3 separate regions of the Homo sapiens genome follow, and regions 2 and 3 are each linked to region 1. Evidence: fine-mapped expression QTL. A gene starts in region 1. Each other region holds a variant in brackets. All regions are shown on one strand. Distances are between the middles of the regions. Region 1 holds the start of KDM5B (lysine demethylase 5B). Region 2 has its middle 26 kb from the start of PCAT6. Region 3 has its middle 47 kb from the start of GPR37L1.

The links.
Region 2: its variant is fine-mapped to the expression of KDM5B in whole blood (TOPMed, PIP above 0.99).
Region 3: its variant is fine-mapped to the expression of KDM5B in unexposed skin (GTEx, PIP 0.93).

The regions. Positions count from the first base shown.
Region 1 is chr1:202,803,856-202,812,027 of GRCh38, reverse strand. It overlaps KDM5B (lysine demethylase 5B), which reads left to right and starts at 3,607. Exons shown (of 27, transcript NM_006618.5): 1 at 3,607-3,926. The coding sequence starts at 3,723. LOC124904583 reads left to right here. Exons shown (of 3, transcript XM_047439549.1): 3 at 469-1,790. The coding sequence ends at 993. PCAT6 (prostate cancer associated transcript 6) reads right to left here and starts at 1,074. Exons shown (of 2, transcript NR_046325.2): 1 at 658-1,074; 2 at 116-453. RefSeq lists silencers at 978-1,207, 3,593-3,802, 3,833-4,032, 4,433-4,552, 4,653-4,722.
Region 2 is chr1:202,832,929-202,841,106 of GRCh38, reverse strand. No RefSeq gene overlaps it. Among named protein-coding and RNA genes, the nearest start is that of PCAT6, 26 kb to the right of the region's middle. RefSeq lists an enhancer at 1,811-2,359. The variant A/G (reference allele first, on the strand shown) is at 3,829.
Region 3 is chr1:202,072,003-202,080,180 of GRCh38, reverse strand. No RefSeq gene overlaps it. Among named protein-coding and RNA genes, the nearest start is that of GPR37L1, 47 kb to the left of the region's middle. RefSeq lists a cis regulatory region at 3,759-4,198 and enhancers at 4,070-4,917, 7,565-8,064. The variant C/T (reference allele first, on the strand shown) is at 3,058.

The sequences.
Region 1 (8,172 bases):
CGTGCCTGGTGCCAAGGAGAGAGACATTACTTCTTCCCTCTAGAGGCTTACAATCTGGCAGGAGAGGAATATGTATGGGGAGAGTGCAGGGACACCGCGGAAAAAAGACAAATACTGAGTTATAAGTGTTGTAATAGGGGGTAGTAACAAGACGTTGTAGGACTACACAAAATAAAACAAGGAGGCCAAATCGCAAGCGTTTGTGGGTTTCACAGGGGACATCTGACAGCAAACATTCCAGGGCACCGAGAGATGGTGAGGAGAGATGATGGCATTGAATTGGAGAGATGAGCTGAGATGGACTGCGCAGAGGACGAGGGAAAGCCGGTGCACTGGAGACTGGGGGAGACGAGAGGATCCACCGGGTTGGGAGGGGAAGGGTGGTGGTAGAAGCACGAGCAAGGCAGAGACCGGAGGCCAGGGCGGAAGGGAGGCTCACGGACACCTGGAGCCCTGAAAAGTTGTCAGAGGCGGCGAGGGGGTGGGGAGCGGACCCTACACGTGCGCTACGTGCTGCGCCGGCCGCTGGGGAGCCCGGTCTGCCCCCCTCATCCCAGAACCCGGTCCCAGGGCAGTTGCACGGCGCCCAGGGGGAGGGGAGGGAGGAAGTCCCCCCAAGTTTGCAACCCGGCAGCGTGGTCTTCGCAACGCGGTTACCGGAAGGAACGCGAGGAGCGCCTCATCACCAGGCGGGTGTATCTAGGGGCGAAGGCTGCAGATCTGGGGCGCAGGCTGGAAAGTGGGGTGCAGCCGGTTGACGTGAGGTCTGGGAGTTGGATGGACCGAATGAGGATGGAGACACCTAGGGATGTGTCCGAAGGATCTGGCGCTGCACAAATGAGGGCGGTTTGGGGGACGGAGGCCCGGGCGGGGGCGGAGTGTTGTCCAAGAGTAAGGAGGGGGTTCCTGGAGACGTGGCACTCGGAGCGGGGCTGGGTTCCGCTCCGGCCGCCTGGGCTGCAGCTCCGCTATGGCCTAGGAACCCGAACCTGACCCCGCCTAGGCCTCGCACCCAGCCCTCTGGGAGCTCCGGCCCCGGCACCTCCAGGCTGGGGTTGCCCAGGTCCGGCCTCTGGGGCGTCCAGCCGGCCCTAGACGAGACAATGCGGCCCGGGCCCCGCCCCCGGAGGATGACGCGCCCGGCTGCCGGCCAGTCAGCGCCCGTGGCTAGGCTCTTTAAAAAAAGAAGGGCCGGCGCGGTGTGGCTGTCAGCTGGGAGGGATCCCTCCGCCCATGTAAACATCATAAAGGGCAAGGGGAGCGTCTGTTGTGGGCGGGGGAGCGGCTGCCTTCCCGGAGAGTCCTCTCGGTCCCTAGGTTCCCCTCAAGACGCCGGCAACCGCCCCGTCCCTTAACGTCACACCGGGTCTGCTGGGAGCCAAACAGCTGCGGCCTGATCTGGGAGCGATAGAATCTCATCACTTAGGGTCACTACCGGAAATGGAGGAAGCCGGACTGGGAGACCTTGAGAGTTGGGAGCGAGAGGGAATCGTAGGACGCAGCTGAGAATTGGGAAAGATTTTCTTAGGCTTGTTCTTCCTGTCCATCTCAGTTAAATAATAATCATAACTCATGTAAGTCTAGAATTTGTCTCAAAGTTATGCCTACCTGGCTCGTAGGATGCCAACGTTAGGAGTGAAAATAGTCAACGCTCTCCCGAGAGAGCACATGACACTACATGAGCTTCATCAAGACCCTCGGAGGCCCAGAATGCGCACCAAAGAGCCATCGACGATAATTCTTCTACCCAACTTTTATTTAGTATTATTAAATATTCAGTAAAGTTAAAAGAAATTTGCATCAAATTCCTCTATACCCACTACCTAGATTCTATTATAACTTGCCACATCGCATATCTATCTTGCACTGATAATTCTTTTAATAGTGTATTAGCTGTCCCCTGGGCTTGACTCTCCATTGCAGTAGGGAGCAGGAAAAGACTCCAGGTCCCAAAGCCCTGGAGAGCTAAGAAAAGGAATACGTTCTCCCAGGACCACTGTGAACTCTTTCCTGGGCCCGGTACCTCTGGGAAAAATTTGTTGAAGGGAAGGCGGTTTTCTTCTCCCCCCACGCCCATCCCCCCTTTTAATTGAAGACTTCTTAAGCATAAGAGATTTCCTTCCACTAGGTGAATCTGAAAGCGAACTAAGATCTTGACAAACATTCCTTGCATACGTTTGGCAGCTTTCTGGATGAAAGAGGTCATTTCAATGTTGACGTTCTACTTTTTGAGCTTCCTCCTTTTTTCTGAGGCTGCTGGACACTACCCCCCCACCCCCGTCCCCCGTCTCCCGCCAAAAGAAAAAAGGCGCCTCAAAAGTGTTCGTATCTCTTAAAGTTCGTTAACCTCTTTGCCTCCGTTGCCTGCTCTGCAAAATGAGGATAATATCGTACCTACTCAATATGGTGGTTGTGAAGACTCAGTGAGCTAATACATGCAGAGCGTTTAGAGCAGTGCTTTACACACAGTAGCATTAAATAGCGGCTATCACCCATAAGCACATAACTCCCAGATTTATATCTCCAATTCTGATCTCGCCCCTTCAGATTTATACCCTTCAGTCTGTTGAAGGATACCCCGTTGTGTATTTCTACCTGTATGTACCAGAGACACCTCAAATTCAAAATGTCCAGAAATGAACACAGTATCTTCTTCCCTTGAGTAACTCGCCTTCTGTATATAATTGGGGTGAATGTTCCAGCAATGCCAACGGGCTAGCATCTACTCAGGCAGGTACGCCAGACATCTGAATCTTAATACCTCGTCGTCCCCCCTCAATCTGTCACTATGTCCTAATTTTATTTCCTACCTTTGCATCCCTTCCTCATAATTATCAGCACCACTGCCTTAATTTAGATCCTATCATTCCTTGTCTGGATTATTTCAAGTCTTTCGCCCCTCTCAAGTCTGACCTCGTCATAGACTGTTTGTGGATGATTATTTTCCCTGCAACATCTCCACCTCCCAATAGTCTCCATCACTTATTAGCCATGTGAATTATGGCAAATTGCTTAACCTACCTATGCCTCACTTTCCTTATTGTAAAGTGGAAATAAGAGTACCTATCTCATAGGGTTGTGTGATTAATCATGCGATGCAATTAGAACAGTGCCTAGGATATGAAAGTGCCCCAAAATGTTACGTTATTATTATTATTACTACTATTGCCTTCTCATGAACATGCTATGTGTATGTTCAAGCTGTTATCTCTACTGGAAAATCCTTCTCCGTTTCCAATACTCTTTCCAAAACCCCCTCCTGGGTTTTACTGCACCTACCATTGTGTACTGACGTGATTGAATGATTGGCTTATGGGACTGATCCTTTCTACCAGACTTAACTTCTTCAGGGCAGGAACTCTGATACATAGTAAATGGTCAATAAAAGTTGGCTCAACTGAAACCCTAAGGATAAACTCCATCCACAGCGGAAGGCGCGGCCCCGCCCGATTCGGGGGCGGGGCGGGGAGCCGCGCGCGGAGGGTGGGTCGATGGGGGTGGGGTGGGACTCTTTTTCCTCGCCGTGGCGGCGGAGGCGCACGGCGTGGGCTTGCGGCGAGACGTCGTCGTCGGAGGCTGAAAAAGCCCAAGGTGCTGCCGTTGCCCGTACAACTCGGACTTGCTGTTGCTCGAGCCGCGTCTGCACGGGTCTCGGACCGAGCGGAGCTCGCAGCCTCGGTCCCGGAGCCCACCTTCGCCTCGCCCTTGCCCAGCCTGCGGTGATGGAGGCGGCCACCACACTGCACCCAGGCCCGCGCCCGGCGCTGCCCCTCGGGGGCCCGGGCCCGCTGGGCGAGTTCCTGCCTCCACCCGAGTGCCCGGTCTTCGAACCCAGCTGGGAAGAGTTCGCGGACCCCTTCGCTTTCATCCACAAGATCCGGCCCATAGCCGAGCAGACTGGCATCTGTAAGGTGCGGCCGCCGCCGGTGAGTCACGCCAGCACCCCGGATCCAGCTCGTGGCTGGGGGAGGGAGCGGGGACGCGCGGGTCCGGGGAGGCCCGAGGCGCGGGGGGCGGGGAGCCGGTCGCCCCGCCGGCCTCGTCAAGTTTGGGGCTGCCTAGAAGGTCGGAGTTGAGGCCGGGGGAGGAAGACGGGGGCTTCTCCAGGGTGGGAGATGAGGAGCGTGGGAGAACCGGGGGCTTCGGCGGTGCCATGGGAGGGCCGGGTCGCCGCGGGGCTCGGGCGGCCGGGTGCGGAGGTTCGGGTTCGGTTCCGGATGGAGTGATGGCAGGAGCCGGGGGTGGTCGCGGGGGAGTTTCCTCACGGAGCCTGGCGGAGGCGCGGGCTGGAGGGAGGACTGTGGGCCCGGCGAGGCTCGGCAGGCTGGTCCTCGCCTCCGCTCCCGGGGTGCGGGGGTGTGTGATGGGGTGGGGTGGGGGTGGGGGACTTGCGAGTTGTCGTGCGAGGAGGAAAGTTTTCAATATGGCGGCGGGAGCCCCTGGTCCTTTGTGTGGTGGCGGCGTCGGCCCGGAGCGGCCCTCACCTGGGCGCCCCACCCTCCAGACCAGGGCACCCCTCCACCGCCTGGTCCCCGGGCCTCCAGGTGTCCCCCGGGCCGGGGTCAAGAAGGGGGCGGCCAGCGCTGGCTGGGGGCGGGGAGGAGCCGCGGGTCCAGCCCCGGAGCGGATGTTTGTGGGGGGCGTTAGTGTCTGGGGGACACTTTTGGGGCGGCGGGGGCAGGACGGGCGGCGGTGGGCCCCGATGCCCGCCCGCGCTCCCGAACGCGCACACTCCCGGCTTCTTCTGGCTCAGCCGCTCGGCTCCCCGGGGAGGCCTGGGCTGTGCTGGTGGGGATGGGGTCCGGGCGAGGCCGTGTTTGTAGGGGAACGTCAGACGGAGAGACCTCCGAAGATTTCGTGCTCGTTTCCCCCGGCCCTCAGGCTCCGGGCACTGAAAGGCAGTCACCCACCGCAGCCCTTCCAGCCCTGTCTACAGCGCCTCGGGCCTGGGGGCAGTGAGTGAGGGGTGGGTGTTGCTGAAACCATCCGTAACGGCTCCAACGTTCGCTGAGGAGAGCCCGGCCAACTCCTTCCTCCGTGGCCGGAACTGGGTGCGCTCCTACACCCCTGTTTTTTTTGCCCACCTTTCGGGAGGGTCTGAGTCCGAGTTGGCCTAAGCGGCGGTTGGACGGGCTGGGACCGTTGGGAAGCGGGTTTAACTGCCTTTCCTGCTGTTTAAGAATCTTCTCCCCACTCTCTTCCCCCACCCCCACTTCTAAGTAGAGGAAGACCCCTTCCCACCCCTTTCTCCCTTAAGCTTGCTTTTTGTAATGACATTTTGAGTTGTAGGGATTCTGTTTGTAATCGTTATGTTTTGGAAAGCTGTTTTCAGGGAGATCCCTGAAAATAAGGCTTCTTAACCCTTCCCTGCCCCAAATTAAAACACGGACACCTACTTTAGTTTTTCTTAAGCAAGTTTGAAAATGGAGATGAAATACATGCTTCAGAAAATAACTGGCCAGCGAATATGAGGGAAATGTTTGAAAATAGATCCATTTCTTACAGCGAAGTGGGCAAGGTTGATTCTTGCTGCTTAAGGGAAGTACGTTTCTCTTAGTGCAAAGAGGCCTGCAGAAGTTATAACAGGGCTGGTTAGAGCCAAGGTTTTAATTCTTGAATAATAGGTCATGTTTCACACTGTAGTAATGTAGCTTCATGTCACATGCTAGGAAGGGTGAATATGAATATTGCACATTTGCATAATGGGATTTTATTCAGAAATTGGGTAACTTGACTAAGTTCTTAGTAACCAAAACGTGGGGAGTCAGGTTCCTGGGAGGTGTCCTCCATGTTGGTATTGTGGTATACCAGGGCTGGGGTAAATCCTTTATCTTGTTTTCTTGTTCTTTGCCTTTTAGAGGGCCCTTTTTCTGAAAAGATAGTGTTGCTCTGGTTAGGCTTGGCTACCCATTTCCTCATCTTGGCTAGAATATTAATGGTAATCTTTGCAAAATGTGTGATCGAATTGCCTTTTTCTCACTCTGAATGTCAGACAGACATGATGGCCACCATTTTGTATTGAGAGTGCTACATAGTACAGCCTGAGGAAAGGGGTTAAAGAGGCACCAATAATCTACAAATACAACCAGTACTCTGTTTGGAGACCTCCTTTGTGTGGAGGGGACTTGCTTCCTCCTTTGTTTAACAAACTCCTTTGCCAAATGGAAAGAGTTTGAGAGTATTTGTTGTTGATATAACCACAAAAAGGGAAATCTTTCCAGAAGTTGTAGCTCTTGAAGAGGGGTCTTGTTGGAACAAAGGCTTCTTAAGAGATGTAAACAGTCTTTGTTTTAGAAACTGTTTTGTTTTTGGGAAAGCTAACTGTGAACAAGTGGTTTCATATAGTTGATATATAGCAACAAAAAAACCCTTCAAGAAGTGTGAAATATTTTCCATGGTGATATATATAATGTCTGTATTTCTGGATGATTTTTGTTCACCGAGTTTTTGGAACACAAATGGTTATATTAGAAGGGGAATTGGAACTATTGGTATTTTACTTGTTAGAAGGTAAGGAGAAGTATAAAACATTTCTGTCTCCTTTTGTTCTTACCTTTGTATCTTTACCAATGGTACTTAATATAGTTTCAGTTTATAGCTGCTTTCTCAGTGAGACTCCCAAACTGCTTGGCTTCTGAAAACTTAGAGTACTTACATTATTTTGTATATGGCAGCTTAGGGGTTCTCAGAAATTTGAAAATATAGTAAGATAAATGTGAGAAAACGTGATTAAGTCAAGAAGACTATACTTCAAATCTGAGTTTGAAGTTTAATACAAACCTTTGTTTCAAATTATATCAACTATGTAGGATAACCAGGCTTGTTTTCTGGACCAAAACCTTCTTAAATTTACAATTCATCTGGCTTCTGGTTTTGTCACCTTTAAAATGCAAATTTTTAATTTCCTCCATGATACTGTACTTAGATGTCTGTTTAAGGACAAATGATATTTTTCCATATCACTTTGTGGTATTTGGAGATGAGTAATTTTAAGGGTGTAACTATTAGGCAGAAAAATAGTTGGCTGCTCAGTAAATACTTTTTTGTCTCCCAAATTTTGATAGGAATATATTTATGGCTTTAGTAACTTATTTTCTTGCTTTCAAATGTCTCACATTTGGCCATAGATAGATTCCACAAATTTCTTTTTTTTTTTTTTTTTGAGACGGAATTTTGCTCTTGTTGCCCAGGCCTGGAGTGCAGTGGCTCATCACAACCTCTGCCTCCCGACCTCAGGTGATCCATGCGCCTCGGCCTCCCAAAGTGCTGGGATTACAGGCGTGAGCCACCGTGCCGGGCCTAGATTCCACAGATTTCTTCTTTGTGTCCGGAGAAGGTTTAAATCAAACCCCAGAGGCCACAAGAGACAAAAATTTTTCAGCTTTAACTTCTTGTGGTTACTAGTTTGATTCCTTCATCTTTATAGCCAAGTGTAAAACTGCCCTTAAATGTTTTAATACAGTCACCATTTTTGAGTGAGCCTGTTGGTTCCACTCCTAGAGAAGAGGGAGGAACTTATACACTTCTTTGTATGGTAGAAGTGTTAATGATATGGAGCTCATTTACTCCCTTTCCAGCGTATCATTCTCCCTAATTTGGGGTTTGATCGACTTAGGCCTAACCCTCTCTCTGTTTTCCCTATTTCTTTGGTGTCATGAAATCTTTCCCTACTTGTATCTTTGGCCACTTTAAGCCTTTAACGTTTAGAGAAGAGGCTTATCAGTAGAAACATCCTTGAGCAAAGGAAGAACTTATAACTACTTAAAAAAAAAACCCTTTTATTGAAATATACCATACAATTCACGAATTTATGATGTGTAATTCAGTGGTTTTTGATATTTTCAGAGTTGTACAACCATCACCACAATCAATTGTAGAACATTTTCATCTCCCTCAAAAGAAACCCTGAACTCACTTGTAACTACTTTTTTTTTCCTTTTTTTAAATTATACTTTAAGTTCTAGGGTACATGTGTACAACGTGCAGGTTTGTTACATATGTACACATGTGCCATGTTGGTGTGCTGCACCCATTAACTCATCATTTACATTAGGTATATCTCCTAATGCTTTCCCTCCCCCCTCCCCCGACCCCTAACTACCTTTTAAGACAAATTTAGGACTATAATGCCCAGGAGAAAAACCTGGTAGGAGGTTGGATTAAGTCCTACAG
Region 2 (8,178 bases), 29 kb before region 1:
ACTGATCATAAGTCAATTTAATATACCCAGTGAACATTAGAGTTTAGCCTTCTTTAAACATGTTCAGAACATTTCCATCAGCCTAGGCTGGTGCAGTTGCTCACACCTGTAATCCCAACACTGAGAGGCCAAGGCGGGAGAGAATCACTTGGGCCCAGGAGTTTGAGACCAGCCTGGGCCACATAGTGAGATACCATCTCTACACAAAATATAAGAAATTAGCTGGGCATAGTGATGCTTACCTGTAGTCCTAGGTACTCAAGAGGCTGAGGCGGGAGGATCGCTTGAGCCTGGGAAGTTGAGGCTGCAGTGATCAGTGATCAGACCATTGCCCTCCAGCCTGGGTGACAGAGCGAGACTCTGTCTCAAAAAAAAAAATTAATTAATAAATAAGTAAGTAAAAATCTTCCTACGTGAGGCGAATGTGCGGCCAGAGTTGAGAACCACTGCCCTAGGAGCCTCAGACATTTAAGGAAACAAGAATGCAGTAAAACTGTGTTGGTGCATGTTTTAAGAAAGGTTCCTCGATCTGACATTCATGGCCCAAACAAAATATAGCTTTAAAAAAGTTTGCTCGGCCGGGCACAGTGGCTCATGCCTATAATCCCAGCACTTTGGGAAGCCGAGGCGGGTGGATTACCTGAGGTCAGGAGTTCGAGGCCAGCCTGACCAACACGGAGAAACCCCATCTCTACTGAAAATACCAAAATAGCCGGACGTGGTGGCACATGCCTGTAATCCCGGCTACTCGGGAGGCTGAGGCAAGAGAATCGCTTGAACCCGGGAGGCCGAGGTTGCAGTGAGCCGAGATCATGCCGTTGCACTCCAGCCTGGGCAACAAGAACGAAACTCCGTCTCAAAAAAAAAAAAAAAAAAGGTTCCTCATTCTGACATTCATAGCCCAAACAAAATATAGCTTTAAAAAATGAAGAAATGACCAGGCACAGTGGCTCACACCTGTAATCCCAGCACTCTGGGAGGCCAAGGCAGGCAGATTATCAGAGGTCAGGAATTCGAAACCAGCCTGGCCAATGTGGCAAAACCCCGTCTCTACTAAAAATAGAAAATTAGCTGGGCGTGGTGGCACATGCCTGTAATCCTAGCTACTTGGGAGGCTGAGGCAGGAGAGTAGCTTGAACCCGGGAGGTGGAGGTTGCAATGAGCCAAGATTGGGCCACTGCACTCCAGCCTGGGCGACAAGAGTGAAACTATGTCTCAAAAGAAAAAAAAAGAAAAAAATTGCTAACTTGCCGAGGTTAAGAAATTTGAAATCAGGCTGGGTGCGGTGGCTCACACCTGTAATCCCTGCACTTTGGGAGGCCGAGGCAGGTGGATCATGAGGTCAGGAGATTGAGACCATCCTGGCTAACACAGTGAAACCCCGTCTCTACTAAAAATACAAAAAATAGCTGGGCGTGGTGGCAGGCACCTGTAGTCCCAGCTACTCGGAGGCTGAGGCAGGAGAATGGCGTGAACCCGGGAGGCGGAGCTTGCAGTGAGCCTAGATAGCGCCACTGCACTCCAGCCTGGGCGACAGAGCGAGACTCCGTCTCAGAAAAAAAAAAAAAATTTGTAATAGTGAAATAGTGTTAGGGACTCAAGTTCCTTCACCTCTTTTGAACATAGTAATTTCTTCTTGTCTCATCATTACACTGTAATTTCTTGTCCTCCCTTGCAAGAACAAGGTGGGAGTTCATTTGTTTTATTTTATTTTATTATTATTATTTTTTAGGAGTCTCACTCTGTTACCCAGGCTGGAGTGCAGTGGTACGATCTCAGCTCACTGCAACCTCTACCTCCCGGGTTCAAGTGATTCTCCTGCCTCAGCCTCCCAAGTAGCTGAGATTACAGGTGCCCGCCGCCACGCCCAGCTGATTTTTATATTTTTAGTAGAGATGGGGTTTCACCATATTGGCCAGGGTGGTCTTGAACTCCTGACCTTGTGACCCGCCTGCCTCGGCCTCCCAAAGTGCTGGGATTACAGGCATGAGCCACCACGCCCAGCTAGTTCACTTGTTAATACAGGAGGGAGAAGGGGAATCTCTAAAGTTTCTACATCCCTGTTTGTGACATCAGCACGTACTTCTACAAGCTCCAAGTGAGCTCCAGGAAACAAACCTCCCTAGCTGCCTTGGTGAATTTGTTTTTTTGTTTGTTTGTTTGTTTGTTTGTTTTTGAGACGGAGTCTCGCTCTGTCGCCCAGGCTGGAGTGCAGTGGCGCGATCTTGGCTCACTGCAAGCTCCGCCTCCCGGGTTCACGCCATTCTCCTGCCTCAGCCTCCTGAGTAGCCGGGACTACAGGCGCCCGCCACCACGCCTGGCTAATTTTTTGTATTTTTAGCAGAGGCGGGGTTTCACCTTGTTAGCCAGGATGGTCTCAATCTCCTGACCTTGTGATCCACCCACCTCTGCCTCCCAAAGTGCTGGGATTACAGGCGTGAGCCACCACACCCAGCCAAATTTGAATCAAAATAACCTGAAACTGCTGAGCACCTTTTCTGCCCCTGACTTTAAGGGAACAGAGCAAGTCTGGCAGTTAGGAAAGGGCTTGGGTCTCCTGGGGGAGCTTGCCTGAGTTCAGACTACTTTAATGGTGGTGTGAGCGAGCCGCCTGTGTAACCCCTCCATGCCTCAGTTACCCTACATGGAAAATGAAGTAGAGTCTATCACATTGCGCTGCACAGATAGAGTGCTTAGCAGTGTCGAACACCGTAATTTGTGTACCTCCTGATTTCCACCCTTCTGTGAAATGGTATTCTATTTTACTGATGAGGAAACTGGTTCAGTAATTGATCTGTCCAAAGCCTTAACAACTGGGACAGTGCTGGACTTGGACCTGTGCTCAAGCCTTTGGATTCGAGAGGCTCTGCTCTTTGCCTAACAGGGAGGGATGGGAGCCATCCTCAGGAGGTTTACTAATAGGCAAGTGATCCATCTACACAACAGCCCCAAACTAGAAACTGAGGTGACATGGTAAACAGGCCATGCGTTCTCTGGTCTCATGAAAGGGAGTCAAGAAGGAAGTTGCAAGTGACCAGAATTTTGAGTTTTGATAGGGAGGAGCAAGGAGGAAAGTCAGCTCCTGATTCCTCTGCTGGACTAAGAGCAGTTGCTGAGTCTAGTGGAGTTGGGGAGGACTGTGAATGCCACAAATTTCAGGCTAAGGAGAGTGGATGAAGAGCCTGGGGGCCTGGGGGCGGAGCTGCCTCTGAATCAGTAGCCTTTTTCTTTTCTTTTTTTTCCTTTTTTTTGAGACAGAGTCTCGCTCTGTCCCCCAGTCTGGAGTGCAGTGGCATGATCTCTGCTCACTGTAACCTCTGTCTTCCGGGTTCAAGCTATTCCCCTGCCTCAGGCTCCTGAGTAGCTGGGATTACAGGCGTGCCCCACCATGCCCGCCAATTTTTGTATTTTTAGTAGAGATGGGGTTTCACCATGTTGGTCAGGCTGGTCTCAAACTCCTGACCTCATGATCCACCCACCTCAACCTCCCAAAGTTCTGGGATTACAGGCATGAGCCACCGCGCCCGGCTGCTTTTTTCTTTCAACAAATAAAATGTCTACCGTGTGCTAAATGCCCTGCAAAGCCTGGAGATACTGTCGGCATGCTGCTCAGTACCTATCCTCAGGAAGCCCACATTCAGGGAACAGAGGTGGGCGGATGCAGACCTTGGACAGTCACACAACTCGTTGTAAGTGTGCAAAAATGAAGGTCCGAAGAGGGCAAGTAACAAGCAGCCCTGGCCTTGTGTGAAGAGTCGGGGAAGGCTTCTCTGAGAAAGATTAAAAAGCTGATGATGAGTAGTTGGTTAGATGGAGGAAGTCCGGACC[A/G]GGAAGTAGCGCATGCAGGAGACCCAGAGCAGGCATGAGCTCAGCTTCAAGAACCATGTGGGTCAGATGGTGGGAGATGAGGTTAGTGAGCTGGGTGGAGGCTGTGGTAAACATGTTTGTACCCCAAAAGCTATGGGGAAGCCATGGAAGGACTTTAAATTGGGCAATGTCCTGTGATGGATTTCTTGCCTTACAGTTCTGAACCCTCCCACACATTAGTCTCATTTGATTGCCACAGTAACCTTGTGAAGATATTACCTCCGTTTTACAGATAAAGACAGTTGGAATCCTTATTCCAATTGAAGGTCAGATGTCTGAAATTACATATCCAGACCACACCTCTGCCCCACCTCTTGCTCTTTCTCCTACCAGAGAGACACCACCACACCCAAGGGAAGTGATGATGCCTGTAGGGGACCCAGAGAGCCTGGATGGTCTCTCTGCCCCATTTCTTAGCCCTCATGGATAACAATATTGCTCCTTGCATGCACAGGGCTCCTAAAGTAGCCTAACCAGAAAAGGGAGAACTATGCCCTGAGGCCACTGGGTGGGAGAAATCTGCTCCTCCCCACCTACCTGGGGCAGGGCTGGCAACAGTGGAAATGTCCTGCCTGCCTGAGCCTGTCTGAAGCTTCCTAACAAAGAAGGAGCCCAGACCTGGTGAGGGGGCAGCCCAAAGACCAGGGCTGAGTGTGCAATTGCCCTGGAGCCCCTAGGGATACGTCAGCAGGAGCAACAGAGGCCCTTGGAATGGGCTGAAGCCTGTGGTCCCCCATGGAAGGATGTGATGGGGTGAAAGAGGGTGCCAGGCTTGACAAATGCTGAAGGCTAGGCACCTCCATCTCCTGGAGAGGGAGAGTTGAGCTGATGCCCTCCAAGTGTCTCTCATTTGCCTTACATGGAGAACTCCCTTTAGCCCCAGTGCCAACCCTGTGTGCTAGCTGGAATCCCTGTTTCATAGGTGGAGAGACTGGCTCAGAGAGGTTAAATAACATAAAATCTCTCAGCTAGTAAATAGCGCTGGAATTAAAACCCAAGTTTGAGTGGCACCACCGTCTGTGCACCTTCCTTTGAACTATAATAACCAGAGAAGAGCTTACTTATTCCCAGGGAGAGCTCCAAAGCTTCGTGGAGGAGGTGACACTGACACTGAGACCCTCCTCTCAGGTGCTTAGCACTCAGGAGCTCAGTAAATGTTTGGATGAATGAGAAACCTGGAGTAAAAAGGGTTGCTGCTGGGTCCTGGAGATGGAGAGAGGGGAAGGGAGTGGAGTGGAGTGGAGGGGAGGGGAGGGGAGGGGACGGGGTCTCAATTGCCCCAGTGGTGTGGGCTCCTCCCCAGCTCTCCAGGAGTGAAGGATTGCCTTGGCCTCTCCAGTCTCACCTGGGAAGCCAGAGCCTGTCCCGCCTTACTCAGCAGGAACCAGCTACCAAGAAACACAAATGCCTTTCACCTAAAAGGCAATTCAGGAGAACCCAAAGCAGCTGCTTTTGATAAAGGAAGGATGTGGCCAGCACAGAGGGAGGAAAAGAGGTCAGTGGGGAAGACAGCTGCCAGACAGACCTGAGGGGAACCCCAGAGGCTGCAAAGAGGATGGGGGCGGGCTGTGCTCCCACTTCATTTCCTCCTCCCACACCCCCATCAGAGCCCCACTCTTCACACTGGCCAAAGTCAAATTGCTGGTCACCAAGAAAGGAGGACACCCATGTCCCCCACAGCAGCCTGAGGCCCCCTCAGCCTTTTCCCTGGGTGAGGGAAAGCCATATCCCTGGAAGGGCAGGTCTGATGGGGTAAGAGGGGCAGGATGTTTGGGTTTCCCAGATTCATTGCATTGAGAGAGCTGGGACAGTCAGGGAAAGGCCTGGGCCCTGCTGGCAATTTGGTGGAGACTTTAGTGAGGTTGCTCAGAAGCCACCTCCCTGCGCTGGTGGGAACCTCCCCGAGACGCCCACCTTTGGTTGCATGAGGTGACCCAGGAGCTGTACCTCAGGCAGGGTCTAGGTTGTCGCAATCTGCATGAACCATGCAGACTCCAGGTAACCGGTCTCTCATATATGTATATTTTTAATCCATAAAACAGGATCTTCCCTGCAGTGTGCTTCTGAAGATTAAATCAGATAATGTATTCCTATGAGCTTTATGAACTGAAGTGACATACAAAAGCAAGGGATTATTCACTAATTCAACAAACATCCACTGAGCTCTAGCAGTGGATTTGGAGGTAAAACAGGAACCCAATGTCCAGACAAATCCAACTCAAGGTGCCCTGGGAGCTCAGAGGAGGGGCCGCTGAGCTGGCTCCTGCAGAGGAGGCAGGGATTACTAATGCAGACAAGGAGGGAGGAGGTTCCGGGCAGGGTGCGGAGAATGTGGGTGTCAGGGAGCCACCGAACACCTGCCAGGAACCACATCATCTTTTCTCCTTTTTTCTTTGGTAAAACTAGCGATGGCTAGCATTTTTCAGTGCTAAGTACCAAGCAATGTTCTAAGTATTCATTGTACTTCTCACCTCTTAATCCTCAGAGCCTGTATTCGTAACCCCATTTTACCAGATGAGAAAATGGGGTCCAGAAGTTAAAGTAACTTCCCAAAGTCACTCAGCTAGTAAATGACAGGTAAACTTTGAACCCTTTCAGACTCCAAAAGCCATGGTTTTAACCTCCTTGTTAGAAAGCCCCTTCACTTTTATTCAACTCTCCAAAAATCCTCTTAAGCAACATTTCCTTAACTTGAGGATGTCACCTTTCCTCTTTCCCAAAAACAGAATCTTAATTCCTTGAGCTTTTTGTAAGACGGTGTCCAGCTTGTGAGAGGCCAGAATGAGGTTGGCAGGGCATGGAATGAAGATTTGGAGGAAAGTGTTTATGAAGAGACCAGGGCCTAGAGTGAACCAGAAATCAGACCCAAGCCCAAGGCCCCTTAACCTCCGCATCTCACCTGTCCCAAAAAATCCAAGCAAGGAGTTGGAGGAGGACAACAGCAGCATTTATGCTCAGAGAAGCATCTTGCTTTCTGGTAACCAAGGCTGATCTCCTTGTAGAGTTCACTTCCCCCAAGGAAAATTAAGGCATGTTGTGTTTTATTTTTGTTTTTTTTTTGTTTTTGTTTTTGCTTTTTTTGAGAGAGAGTTTTGCTCCTGTCACCCATGCTGGTGTGTAATGGCGTGATCTCAGCTCACTGCAACCTCCGCCTCCTGGGTTCAAGTGATTCTCCTGCCTCAGCCTCCCGAGTAGCTGGGATTACAGTTGCCCACCACCATGCCCAGCTAATTTATTTGGTATTTTTAGTAGAGATGGGGTTTCGCCATGTTGGCCAGGCTGGTCTCAAACTCCTGACCTCAGATGATCCACCCACCTCGGCCTCCCAAAGTGCTGGGATTACAGGCATGAGCCACCATGCCTGGCCAGCAAGTTTTATCAAGCTGACTTTCTTGTCTTCCCCTGCCCTAACCCTCACTTCAACAGAAGGCAAGGCCTCCACTTTAGGGAAAAAAGAATGTCCCAGAGAAGAAGGTTTGGGGGATGGGAGGCCAGTAAGGCTCAGTCAGGCAATAAACCCCCTCCCTTCCTGGCGTTACCTTTAAGGAGAAGAGGGCCCAGGAAGGGTGGCATTCTCAGAACTTATCACCAGAGCCCCTGGGACTATGTGGTGACCTATGTTCCTTTCTTTCCTAACTGCATTTCCCCTGCCAACCCCATAATAACTTCCCTCATTGTCTATGCTCACCATTCACCTTCTTCAAGGTGAAACCCACGACCCAGCACACAAAAAGGAGGCCTATCTGGGGGACATGGCATGCCCACTTGGTTGTGTATGACTTGAACTCACATTGCCCGCATGTGAGGGCTTGGCCAGGACCTGGCCCGAACTCCACCCTAAACTCCAGGCCCCTCCAACCTTTGATACCACACCCAGTCTGTAGCAAATATAGGACTTTCTTTTGAATAATAACACTCATTGTAAATCATCTGCTGGCTCGTCCTAAACAATGTTAAGCCTCAAATAGGGTGGGTGGGTCAGTACGAGGAAAATGCCAACCTCTGAAAGTGGAGTTAATAGAATCAACAACAGATCGATTCGGCCATCTGCAGAGTAATACACGCTCAAAGGGGCTTAGTGTTACTGACAGAGATAGGGGTATGTCCCAGGAATCCGTTTAGGGGACCAGTGCTTCTGAAGCTAAAAATGATTTCCAGGAAGTTGTAACCCAATCAAGTACTTGGTAACCTGAGGCAAAACTGTTAACTCGAGAAAGCCTCCCCGGAACAGAGCAAAACAGTGGCTCGTAGTGTTTTTTTGTTGTTTTGTTGTTGATGATGATTCTGTTTTGTTTTTGTTTTTGTTTTGTA
Region 3 (8,178 bases), 730 kb after region 1:
TCATGAGGACAGAATTTTTTTTTTTTTTTTTGGAGACAGGTTTTCACTCTGTCACCCAGGCTGGAGTGCAGTGACACGGTCTTTGCTCATTGCAGCCTCAACCTCCCAGGCTCAAGTTATCCCCCTGCCTCAGCCTCCTGAGTAGCTGGGACTGCAGGCAGGCACCACCACGCCTAGCTAACTTTTGTATTTTTTGTAGAGACAAGACTTTACCATGTTTCCCAGGCTGGGAGGACAAGATTTTTGTGTTTTGTTCTCTGCTGTATCCTCAGTGCCTAAAACAGCACACAGTAGGAATTCAATAAATATTTCAATGACTATTGTTGAAAGAATATAGGAGGCCGGGTGTGGTGGCTCATGCCTGTAATCCCAGCACTTTGGGAGGCCGAGGTGGGTGGATCACGAGGTCAGGAGTTCAAGACCAGCCTGACCAAGATGGTGAAACCCTGTCTCTACTAAAAATACAAAAAATGGCCGGGCGCGGTGGCTCACACCTGTAATCCCAGCACTTTGGGAGGCTGAGGTGAGTGGATCACGAGGTCAGGAGATCGAGACCATCCTGGCTAACACTGTGAAACCCCGTCTCTACTGAAAATACAAAAAAAAATTAGCTGGGCATGGTGGCGGGTGCCAGTAGTCCCAGCTATTTGGGAAGCTGAGGCAGGAGAATGGCGTGAACCCGGGAGGCAGAGCTTGCAGTGAGCCGAGATCGTGCCACTGCACTCCAGCCTGGGTGACAGAGCGAGACTCCGTCTCAAAAAAAAAAAAATACAAAAAATTAGCCAGGCATGGTGGAATGCACCTGTAATCCCAGCTACTCGGGAGGCTGAGGCAGAGAATTGCTTAAACCTGGGAGGCGGAGGTTGCAGTGAGCTGAGATCGCGCCACTGCACTCCAGCCTGGGTGACAGAGCAGGACTCTGTCTCAAACAAAAAAAAAGAAAGAAAGAATATAGGAAAAGGGGGCCAGGCATGGTGGTTTATGCCTATAATCCCAACATTTTGGCTGGGCGCGGTGGCTCACGCCTCTAATCCCAGCACTTTGGGAGACTGAGACGGGTGGATCACAAGGTCAGGAGATCGAGACCATCCTGGCTAACATGGTGAAACCCTGCCTCTACTAAAAATACAAAAAAAAATTAGCCGGGCATGGTGGTGGGCGCTTGTAGTCCCAGCTACTTGGGAGGCCGAGGCAGGGAGAATGGTGTGAACCCGGGAGGCAGAGCTTGCAGTGAGCTGAGATCGCGCCACTGCACTCCAGCCTGGGGGACAGAGCGAGACTCCATCTCAAAAAAAAAAAACAAAAAAAACCCCAAAAACCAACATTTTGGGTGACCAAAGCAGGCAGATCATATACGGCCAGAAGTTTGAGACCAGTCTGGCCAATATGGTGAAACGTCATCTTTACTAAAAATACAAAAATTAGCCAGGTGTGGTGGTGCACATCTGTAATCCCAGCTACTCGGGAGGCTGAGGCAGGAGAATCACTTGAATTGGAAAGGCAGAGGTTGCAGTGAGCCGAGATCGCACCACTGTACTCCAGCCTGGGTGACAGAGCAGGAGTCTTATCTCAAAAAAAAAAAAAAAAAAAAGACTATATGAAAAGGAATATTAGATAAAACACATGGCCCTAGTTTCCCCATATGGAAAATGGGAAGGATTAAACTGGATCTAAGATTCCATCTGTTTCCAGGAGTCAGGCAGGCTGTGCTGGGGCGGCCTGGTTGGGCATGGAGGTGGGGCTGAGAGGGACAGTTTCCTCACAGGCTTCAGAACAAGCCTGTATGTGACTGGCAGGGTGGGGCAGGGCGTTGGGGGAGGGGCGATGGAAGGACTTTGCTAAGGATCTATCCAGAAGACTTCAGAATTCCCTGAATGAGGCAGGTCCAGATGTGGGCAGCTTCAGGTCAGGGCATGGGGGCCCTTCAAATAAACAGCAGCAGGCCGGGCGCGGTGGCTCACACCTGTAATCCCAGCACTTTGGGAGGCCGAGGCAGATGGATCACCTGAGGTCTGGAGTTCGAGACCAGCCAGGCCAACATGGTGAAACCCCATGTGTACTAAAAATACAAAAACTTAGCCAGGTGTAGTGGCGGGTGCCTGTAATCCCAGCTACTCAGGAGGCTGAGGCAGGAGAATCGCTTGAACCCAGGAGGTGGAGGGCCGAGATCGTGCCACTGCACTCCAGCCTGGGCAACAAGATTGAAATTCTGTCTCAAAAAAACAAAAACAAAAAAACTCCAAACATTTGCAGAGCACTTCCCACAGGCCACAGCCTGTCTGACCTTTCCAGACCAGTAAAGCAGGCCATCCCTCCAGCTCCTTTCCTCAAGGGCCCTTCCAGCATCATTCGGGTCTCAGGCTAAATGTCACTTCCTTGGAGTGGGCTTCTCTAATCACACCCTGTCACCCTCTAGCAATCATCCTATTTTAATTTCTCACATAGCACTTGGCATTCCCTGTGGATTCTCTGGTTTGAGGTCTGACTCCTCCATTTGAGTGGAAGTCCCATAAGGGCAGGGTCTGTCTCCTTCACCACAGCATTCTTCACCTGGGGCAGCACCCAGGGCAGCACCAGAAGACAGGTGAAGAGAAACCCTGTTTTATAGCTATGAAAACAGAAGCACAGAGGCTAAGTGTCTGGCCCAAGGTCTAACAGAGAGTCAGTACCAGAGCCAGCATCCATCCTCCCATGCTGACCCTCCTGCTCACCATGCCTGTCTCTCTGCCCTGGCTACCACATGGCAGCCAAAGTGAGTTTTTCTTCTTCTTTCTTTCTTTTTTTTTTTTTGAGATGGAGTCCTGCTCTGTCGCTAGGCTAGGGTGCAGCGGCACAGTCTCGGCTCACTGCAACCTCCTCCTCCTGGGTTCAAGCGATTCTCCTGCCCAGTCTCCCAAGTAGCTGGGATTACAAGTACACACCACCATGCCCGGCTAATTTCTGTATTTTTAGTAGAGACGAGGTTTCACCATGTTGGCCAGGATGGTCTTGATCTCCTGACCTTGTGACCCATCCGCCTCAGCCTCCCAGAGTGCTGGGATTACATGCGTGAGCCAC[C/T]GCGCCCAGCCCAAAGTAAATTTTTCAAAACATAGACCAGATTCCTTCTGACTCACCTTCCTGTGGGTTGGTTTTCTGCATATCATCATCTCCAGACTTCTTATCTAGGCCTGTCTGACTGTCCTCATCAGGCCTCTGCCCACCATCCTCTTCTCTCCAGCTTCTATTTAACCCCCAGATCATGCTCACTCCTGCCCCAGGACCTTTGCGCTGGCTCTCTCCTCTCCAGGAAGGTTTTGGCATGGCTCATTCTTATCCCCCAGGGTATTTGTAGGAAGGTCATCCTGACCACTCTAAAGCCACCCTGTGCTGTCCCCATAGTCCCTCCCCACCACAGCCCTCTTAGACTTTCCTCCATTGCACTCAGCACCCACTACAATTATTGATTTATCTTTTGTCTCCGGCTACCCAGAACACAGCCCAGTGAGAGTAGAGACCATGCCTGGTGGCATCCTCGGTGCATCTCCGGTGCCCAGAATGGTGCCTGGCACAAAGTGGGCACTCATAAAATATTTGTTAAATGAATGGATGCAGGAGTGAATACATTTGAGAAAAAGAACCAATGGGCAGGAAAGAAATGAGGTTGGAAAGGCAGGGCTGGGGGCTGAGGGTCATTTCATAGAACAAGCACAGAGGCCTGCAGGCCCAGGCGCGGACCTCAGGAGAGATGCACAGACTACCATTAAGAGACAGTGACACTGAGGTTCCTCGCGGTGCTGGGAAGTCTGACTTGAGAGTACAGTGCTGGTTATGATTATAAACTGGCAAAAGGCAAACAGGCGAGACTGGTGAGCTTAACCCAGTGCATCTCACTCCTCTTATCAAATTTCTCTGAAGCTGTTATCTCTCTGGACTTCAAACAGCTGCCTCTTATCTTCAGCCCAGCCCAAGCAGTTATCAGGTTCTAGAATAACAGCTTTCCAGGCTGCTAGGAGCAGAGCCCAGTGCCAGGTCTCCAGCCTGGCGTGAGGAAGGCCAGAGTGTGTCTTCCCTGCACTCAGCAGGGCCTATTCACTCCCAGTCCCCAGAGTCCCTCATCACAGCACAGGAAGGGTGGGAGATAGGCTGAATCTCAATGAAGCCACTTTGGGTAGGGGCGGAGCAAAAAAAAATTTCTACTCACAGTTCCACCAACCTGTTAAGGGACTGGTCCTGAGTCTCCTCTTATCACCTGAGCCACAGGTTAAAGCCTTAAATGGGACCCCTGGGACCCCAGAACATGACCCGGATGTCAGGCCTCCTCTGAGAATATCCCAGTCCGCAGCACCCTTTAGTGCCAGAAGAGAAGTTTACCGGAGAGAAGTAGGCCCTCCTATGTGCCTTGGTCTACTCTGACCTAAGAAATCACTCCTCAGCCACCCAGGACCAAGTCACCTTCAGAACTTTGAAGCCAGATGTGTGAGAGGGAGACTGAGTCACTCTGCAGGACAGATCAGGCCCTCAGGGTTCTGCCTCCTCACCATCCCGGCAGGACGCAGAGCTCCAGCAAAGTCCAGGAGGCCACAGGCTGACATCCACCTGGCCTCACTTCATACCAGGTGGTGCACTGGCCCAGGCCCCATAGACAAGGGACAGCCAGGGCCCTCCCTACACCCTGGGGTAGGGGCAGGAGCCAGGGCAGGACAACGGGCACAGCATGACATGCCCTGAAGGACTTGTGCCTGCTGCCTCCCACCGGTGCCCTCCCTCTGTTAGCTATAGAGATGTGTGTAAGTCTGAGCCATGGGAAGGCTTCCTAAGGCATCTTTAGAAGCTGGCCAGACCCCTCACTTCCTGACTTCATTCCCCCTTGAAGCAGGGGGTGCCAATAAGGAAAAAAAGCACATACAGAAGTGACATTAGCAACAGCATGTCAACACCTGTGCAGAGCAGTTTATCAGTAAACAAAGGCCAGAGCACAGGGCAGAGAGGGGAGCTTGGACTTGACCCTGTGGACAAAGGGAAGCTGTGGTGGAGCTTTAAGTAGGGGGTGGACAGCACCAGATTTGCATGTTTGAAAGACCCTCTGGCTATAATGAGTGGGGAGGAGCCACAGACAGAAGGGACAGACTTGCAGGAGGAGCTGTTAGCAGTGCAGGAGAGAAACTGACCATTTGAGAGAGTCCTCAGTACGCATGTATTTTCTCAATATAAAGACACTGGTTCGGCCAGGTGCGGTAGTTCACGCCTGTAGTCCCAGCAATTTGGGAGGCCAAGGCAGGCAGATTACTTGGGACCAGGAGTTCAAGACCAGCCTGGACAACATGGCAAAACCCTGTCTCTGCTAAAAATACAACACTTAGCCAGTCGCAGTAGCGCATGCCTGCAGTCCCAGCTATTCAGAAGGCTGAGGTGGTAGGATCGCTTGAGTCCAGGAGGCAGAGGTTGCAGTGAGCCAAGATTGTGCCACTGTACTTCTAGCCTGGGTGACAGAGTAAGACTGTCTCAAAAAAAAAAAAAGACAGTGGTTCGAGACCAGCCTGGGCAACACATAGTGAAACCCTGTCTCTAAAAATAATTAAAAATTAGCTGGGTGTGGTGGTGTGTGCCTGTAGTCCCAACTACTTGGGAGGCTGAGGTAGGAGGATTGCTTGAGCCCAGGAGGTTGAGGCTGCAGTGAGCTGTCATTGTGCCACTGCACTCCAGCCTGAGCAACTAAGAAAGACCCTGTCTCAAAAAAAAAAAAAAAAAAAAAAAAGCACTAGACCAGGCACAGTGTCTCACGCCTGTAATCCCAGCACTTTGGGAGGCCAAGGTGGGCAGATCACGAGGTCAGGAGATCGAGACCATCCTGGCTAACACGGTGAAACCTCGTCTCTACTAAAAATACAAAAAATTAGCCAGGTGTGGTGGCAGGCGCCTGTAGTCCCACCTACTTGGGAGGCTGAGGCAGGAGAATGGCATGAACCCGGGAGGCGGAGTTTGCAGTGAGCCGAGATCGTGGTACTGCACTCCAGCCTGGGCAACACAGCAAGACTCTGTTTCAAAAAAAAAAAAAAAAAAAAAAAGACACTAAAAGCCAAATTCCAAGCATGTGGAAGCTCATCAGTTGTTTTTTTTTGTTTTTTTTTTTGAGATGGAGTCTCACTCTGTCGCCCAGGCTGGAGTGCAGTGGTGCAATCTCAGCTCGCTGCAAGCTCCACCTCCTGGGTTCACATCATTCTCCTGCCTCAGCCTCCCGAGTAGCTGGGACTACAGGCGTCCACCACCACACCCGGCTAATTTTTTGTTGTTTTTAGTAGAGACAGGATTTCACCGTGTTAGCCAGGATGATCTCGATCTCTTGACCTTGTGATCTGCCTGCCTCAGCCTCCCAAGTGCTGGGATTACAGGCGTGAGTCACTGCGCCCGGCTCATCAGAAGTTTTTAACTGTTTTTGAAAAAGTCTTCATCCTCCAAAAGGCTGGGAAGGCCTCCATGTATAGGTAACACCCAAGCCCCTTCCTCAGGCCTCCAAAGCCTTCCAAGATGGGGCCCAGCCTCATTCTCCAATGCTGTGCCCTTGTTTGCACCCCAGTGTCCAGCATGAGGCCTAGCCCCCTTTGCCCAGGTAACCACAGTGACCCATGCCTCCATGCCACTGTGCAGGCTGTCACTGCTGCAAAGCATTCCCCACTCCGTCCTGTGTCTTGTTCAACGCTCAGCACAGCACCTGGCCCATGGTAAAGCTCTCAATCAATATGTGTTTTACACACAGCAGAGGTAATCACTCCCTCTACCTCCATGCGGAGTACACACCTCTAATATCGCACTTACGTTGCTCGGCAATAGCCTGTTTACTTGACATGTCCACTCAGACGGCGAGCTCTTTGAGGGCTGGGACTCTTTCATCTTTGTGTCCTCACTGCCTGGCACACAGTAGGTACTCAATAAATGCTTGTTGAATGACTGCGTAAAACCCATCTGAAGCTTCTCTAATCACTTCTGAGAAACCTTAGTACATCTATGGCCCTCTTTTTTTTTTTTTTTTTTTTTTGAGACAGAGTCTCGCTCTGTCGCCCAGGCTGGAGTGCAGTGGTGTGAGCTCGGCTCACTGCAGCCCCCACCTCTCGGGTTCAAGTGATTCTCCTGTCTCAGCCTCCTGAGTAGCAGCTGGGATTACAGGCGCCTGCCACCATGCCCAGATAATTTTTGTATTTTTAGTAGAGACGGGGTTTCACCGTGTTGGCCAGGCTGGTCTCGAACTCCTGACCTCAGGTGATCCACCTACTTTGGTCCCCCCAAAGTGCTGGGATAACAGGCATGAGCCACTGCGCCTGGCCAGGCACCTCCTGTATCTCCCTCACCACACTGCTCTGTAGCCCAGCAGTTAATCCAGGTACCTCAGACAAGTCCAGGTCCAAATCCTGGCTGCACCATTTGATGATGACCTAGCACACCCCTTGAGCCTCAGGTTTCCATTTGGTGTCCATATTCCATTAGGGAAGTGGAAGAATGCAATCAGATAATTCATGGCAAGAGTTTGGCAAATGTCAAATAAATGCCAACTTTGTTATTCTGGCCTCACCCACAGTTTTCTCACTCCCAGAATCCTAAAGCCAGCCGTTTAGTGCCTCAGAGACCTTGCTCTTAGAGAGATAAGATGCCCTAGGTGTGGCCAAAGAATAAGAAGGTCCAAAGTGAAGATAACATTTTAAAAAATGTGTAGAATAGAATGAGTAATAAGAAAAGGAAGGCTGGCCAGGGTAGCGACAGAATCAGGAGGGACCTTGAGGCTGCCTGGGAGTGCCTGTGTGTATTGGCGTGGCAGAGCCAACCGTCAAGGTCCGGCACCGGCCCGCCCAGCATCTGGGTTCTGCTGCAGCTCTTCTGGCCAAGGCTGGGTGGCCACTTCTCCCCACACCGCTCAAGGGTTCTCCTTCCTCAGCTAACTGGCTCTCCCCACAAACATGCTGTGAATTTCCTGGGGTTGCTCTCCAGTTAGGGATTGAGAGGCCTTAGACGTGAAGGGCAAAAATGTCATTAAGAACCCAGACTGGCCGCCTAGCATATATGGCATTCCCTGGGCCTCATCGTTCTTTTTTTTTTTTTTTTTTGAGACGGAGTTTCACTCTCGTCACCCAGGCTGGAGTGCAATGGCGCGATCTCGGCTCACTGCAACCTCTGCCTTCCGGGTTCATGCGATTCTCCTGCCTTAGCCTC